Regions from separate parts of the Homo sapiens genome. Here region 2 is linked to region 1. The links come from fine-mapping of genetic effects on gene expression. Tissue or cell type: tibial artery. Region 1 holds a variant in brackets; the other region holds the start of a gene. All regions are shown on one strand. Distances are from middle to middle.

The links. PIP is the estimated chance that this variant, and not a neighbour inherited with it, causes the effect.
Region 2: TRIP4 starts here. The variant in region 1 is fine-mapped to the expression of TRIP4 in tibial artery (GTEx, PIP above 0.99). The same link has a PIP of 0.9 or more in tibial nerve.

Annotation. Positions count from the first base shown.
Region 1 is chr15:64,463,565-64,466,064 of GRCh38, forward strand. The region is part of intron 1 of ZNF609 (zinc finger protein 609); the gene reads left to right. Among named protein-coding and RNA genes, the nearest start is that of ZNF609, 4.2 kb to the left of the region's middle. RefSeq lists an enhancer at 1,264-1,313. The variant C/CA (reference allele first, on the strand shown) is at 1,123.
Region 2 is chr15:64,386,574-64,389,202 of GRCh38, forward strand. It overlaps TRIP4 (thyroid hormone receptor interactor 4), which reads left to right and starts at 1,263. Exons shown (of 13, transcript NM_016213.5): 1 at 1,263-1,391. The coding sequence starts at 1,291. It also overlaps a transcript of PCLAF not described here. RefSeq lists enhancers at 978-1,478, 1,060-1,549, 1,479-1,979.

The DNA.
Region 1 (2,500 bases):
TGAATAAGAACTTTAGCCTTTGGTTTTGGTAAAGGTCTTTCTGAGGCAATTAGTCTGTCTATGGTGCCTCCCTTATCCTTTTATTTCAGTGAGTTTCTTTAAATGATGGCCTGCCACTGAGGTGTTGGGCCTTTGATAGGAGGGAACAGGTTGTTCTGACCTTTATATATTTTTTGATAACAGAACTGTCTTCAGGCCTTACTGGAGGTGTTGTCTGTCTTTAGACTATTTCCAACTCTGTGTCCTAGGAATATTTGAGTGAAGCCTCAGCTAAACTGAGTCCAAAGCTTTTTGCTCTTGGGCTCTTGGCATTTATTTCTGAATGCTGTCAGGTGACAGTGAAGGCAGAAGCCTCAGATTAAATTTGTCCTGATTAGATTTAGTGGCTTCAGAGTTGGGCCCTTGCCACAAGGAATCTCATGTGAGTCTTCTGATTGTGACCATCATTCAAAGAGTGCTTTGGATTCCCCCCCAACTACCCGTCCCAGCTTCTTGGTAGAAAAAAATTTCCTTGTGATAGAAGTCTAGAAAGTTGGACAGATTAGTGCTTATTTTGTGAGGATATGGAGGCATAATTTTGGCTCCTGGTAGCAATTATGTTGCAATTAGCATATAGCAACTAAATGACTGGAACACGATAATTTGTTGAGGGGTTTACTGATTGCTCTGTCAAGTGGAAGTGCCACTCCTTATTTATTTTATTTATTTGACTCAGAACACTATTGCCTGAGCTTAGCCATGGAGGCTAAGTATAGCAATGATATGTGTTCTCCAGAAGTTCCCACTCTGCTTCCTCTTTGTAGTTACTTCTTTTCCAGGTACCTTAGTACTTGTACTGCCCTTTTCTCCTACTCTGAAGGTAGCTAAGCAATTGTTATTTCCCTCATGGAAAACTGGTCATGGATGGGAATACTGCCAGGCAGATGGGATTAGCCTGAGATGAGGCAGCCTTATATTGTGTGGGAAGTTTTCTTTTCAGTCTCTTAATTCTCTCTTCTACTTGATTTTTCAAAATCAGTTTCCTTTAAAGAAAACAAACAAAAACCCCACAAAATGCAAAATATCGTAATGTATTAAATATGCCTTCATGATACCTCTGTTATAAAAGTTGTCTGTGACAGA[C/CA]AAAATGAAGATAGGTGATGTTGATTGGCAGGTTCTGGGTCCACTAAGTGTCAGTGAAGGACTCTTTTCGCTAGGGAACAGGTAATTCACCAAAGCACCTGCCTAGCTGGGCATGTGGAATTGGCAGCAGCTGTGTAGCTGAAGAGGGATTACTGAGCAGGTGGTTGAAGAATCACATGCCACAGTGACAAGAAAATACTTGGTCTTCCGTGGGTTAGATTCAGTTTGTATGTGTGAAATTGCACTTTGTTTCACATTTCTTAATGCTTGTTGATTTGTTAGTAAGATGGTAATAGAATAGAGAAAGAGATTCTTCTGTAACTGTGGTTTTTTAGATCACTCAGTAGCATGCCCTAGACATGGCCCTACACGGCTCTATTGTATTTATGGGAGTTCTGGCTTTATGCTTTGTGCATGGGAGGGAAATAGTGGTAATTCAGTGTTTCTAGTACTTGTTTATTAAAGGGAAATGGGAAGGAGAAAATTTCTTGCTTTCAGTATGGTGAAAAAGATTTAGCCTACTGGGTGGATACCTAATAGGTTTTATGCAAATGATGTAATTGACTTTTTGTGGAAGTCTACCTGACATGCCTTACTCAAGTGATTTTGCATGTGTTTTTATATTATGTTTTTATATTATGAATATATTTCCCCACATGAAGTTTGCATCTCTTCGGTTGTTTATTTGTTTGTTTGTTTGTTTTTCTTTTTTGAGACGGAGTTTCGCTCCTGTGGCCCAGGCTGGAGTGTAATGGTGCGATCTCGGCTCACTGCAACCTCTGCCTCCCAGGTTCAAGCAATTGCTTGCGTCAGCCTCCTGAATGGCTGGGTCTACAGGCGCCCACCACCATGCCCAGCTAATTTTAGTATTTTTAGTAGAGATGGGGTTTCATTATGTTGGCCAGGCTGCTGTAGAGCTCCTGACCTCAGGTGATCCACCCACCTCGGCCTCCCAAAGTGCTGGGATTACAGGTGTGAGCCATCATGCCCTGCCAGTTGTTTTTTTCAATTTTTAGTTTCTCCCAGCACCTTTGTAACTCTTTTCCCTGACATTGACATTAACATCACTTGTTAGAACCAAGTCATCACCAGAAGAAATGATGTTAAGGAACATCACCACTAAATATTTATCTTAAAAACGGATATAGGCCGGGCGCAGTGGCTCATGCCTGTAATCCCAGCACTTTGGGAGGCTGAGGCGGGCAGATCACCTGAGGTCAGGAGTTTGAGACCAGCCTGGCTGACATGGTGAAACTCCATCTCTACTAATAATACAAAAATTAGCCAGGCTTGGTGGTGCACTCCTGTAATTCCAGCTACTCGGGAGGCTGAGGCAGGAGAATCGCTTGAACCCGGGAGGTGGAGGTTGCAGTGAGCT
Region 2 (2,629 bases), 77 kb before region 1:
CTGATTCCCAAAGTGCTGGCATTACAGGCATGAGCCACCACGCCCAGTGTGTGTGTGTGTGTGTGTGTGTGTGTTTGTGTGTGTGTCTCCGTGTGCGCTCGGGTGATCCTCCCGCCTCGGCCTCCCAAAGCGCTGGGATTACAGGCATGAGACACTGCGCCCGGCCAATACACTCATGATTTTAATTATAATATTTATGCCAATGAAAACACTAGCAAAAAGGTAAAACAGCTGCCAATTTAATGTGACCACTTAGTCTAAACAGGCTAGTAGAAATGAAGAACTTTTAACCTGCAAATGCAACAAAAAGCCAGAAATGAATGGGAAGACATTATGATCTCCAGAAAAGTTTGGCTAAATTTTCCCCAGCCCATTGTCTTAGCGGGGTAGGGAATTGCAGACAGCCCTTAAATACTGTCATTTTTGGTTGAGAACTCATGTGGAAAGTCCTCAAAGCCAAATTCCAACTCCTGTTTTACTGTTTTTTACCCTCGAGCTTGCTGAGTTGTCTTGGCTCTCCTGGAAAATACATGGCTCAAAAAATAAAATAGAAGTTTTAGCGGTGTGAATCTAGTAGTCGACTACAGGGGGTATTAAAAATAAACACTCCATCCCGGTTAACACGTGAAACCGCGTCGCTACTAAAAATACAAAAAAAATTAGCCGGGCGTGGTGGCGGGTGCCTGTAGTCCCAGCTACTTGGGAGGCTGAGGCAGGAGAATGGCATGAACCCGGGAGGCGGAGCTTGCAGTGAGCCGAGATCATGCCACTGCACTCAAGCCTGGGCGACAGTGCGAGACTCCGTCTCAAAATAAATAAATAAATTAATTAATTAATTAAAAAATTAAAACCACCACCAGAGCAAAAACTTACAGCGCTTACAATACCTTCCACGTGCTGTTTTATTTTACATAAAACCATGACGATTAAAAAGCTGGCCTCTCAGCTTTCCGGGTATTGGTTTGTTTTCCCCCTAAACTGTCGTTTTTATAGGCACTTGCACTGTCTTCTTAGCAGAATTGCCAATGGCCTTCCTCGAGTCCTACGTTTAGCGATTGGCAAGAATCATGCACTGACAGAGCTCGACTCCGGAGGGCACAAGGAAGTAGACAACAAAGCAGGAAGAAGCAGGAGGCGCACAGATGGGCGGGATCTGCACTGGAGGCGGTGCGACCTTGCGGGGCGGTGCAAGCTGGCGGAACCCGCGTGAGAGAGGTTGGTGTTGCGAAGGGAACTAGTCCGGTGCAGGACGTGGGGCTTTTGCAGCTCAGCTGGTTCCGGCTGGGGAAGATGGCGGTGGCTGGGGCGGTGTCCGGGGAGCCGCTGGTGCACTGGTGCACCCAGCAGTTGCGGAAGACTTTCGGCCTGGATGTCAGCGAGGAGATCATTCAGTGAGAACAGTTCGGGTCCAAGCGGGGAAGGAGCTCTGGGATGTGCACTGCCTGAGCGAACCGGGAAGCGGGGAGGACTGAAAAGTTAAGAGAGAAATGTGATAAAGGGGCTGCAGTCTGTAGTCTGTAGGCGTCGAATTTTGGCCTCCACCTTTGTAGTTTAGTTTCTGGAATAGGGTGTCCGGCTCCACAGTCTGCCGGTCGGGCTTTTTTCCTGGGAAGACGCCCAATCTGTAATAATTAGAAATGCAAGGCTGTCCCAGGAGCCAGTTTCCTTTCTAGAGAGAAGGGGCAGGTCAAACTGTATTTCCTAACTTTGAACCCCTTACTCTTTTATTTATTTATTATTATTGTTGTTATTATTGAGACGGAGTCTCTGTCGCCCAGGCTGGCGTGCGGTGGCGCGATCTTGGCTCACTGCAACCTCCGCCTTCCGGGTTCAGGTGATTCACCTGCCTGAGCCTCCCAAGTAGCTGGGATTACAGGCACGCACCACCACACCCGGCTAATTTTTAAAAATTTTTAGTAGAGTCAGTGTTTCACCATGTTGGCCAGGCTAGTCTCCAGCTCCTGATCTCAAGTGATCCGCCCGCCTCGACCTCCCAAAGTGCTGGGATTACAGGCATGAGCCACCGCACCCAGATATACTCTGAACATTTTAGTCGGCCCAATCTGAGTTGTGTCAGTAGAGCCAACAGGGTCAGCTGTGTCAATAGGACCTAGAATTTAAGTGGAAGCAGCGTGGTAGAGTACAAATAGCTTCTGACTCTGGAGTCTCAGGTTCTATATTCTGTTGTCGTTTACCTGTTTTAGAACCCAGGACAACTTAATTTTTCTCTCTGTACCCTGGTTTCTTCATTTATAAGATTAATCATTAGTAGAGCTTATCATGCTTTATGACTCCTATGAAATGGAGATGGTGTACATGACTTAATATCTACTTTCAACTGATTGAAGAACATTTGTTGCGCTGCTGTTACACGCCAGGTGCTGGGGTAACAAAGACAAGACAGTTGGGTTCCCCTTCGTTGATGAGTGCTGAGGTTGGGGAAATGAAGGGGCTTGTTGGAGCACAAAATAAAGGATTCTCATTAAGATTTGAAAAACTCGGAAGGTTTATTGGAAAGGATAACTTTCACCCGAGAACTAAGGAATAGACAGAGGTGGCGGTCCAAAGTGTTCAGGCAGGGGAGAAAACTACAAAAATGGGACTTGATCGAAGAACTGAAAGTGTTCCT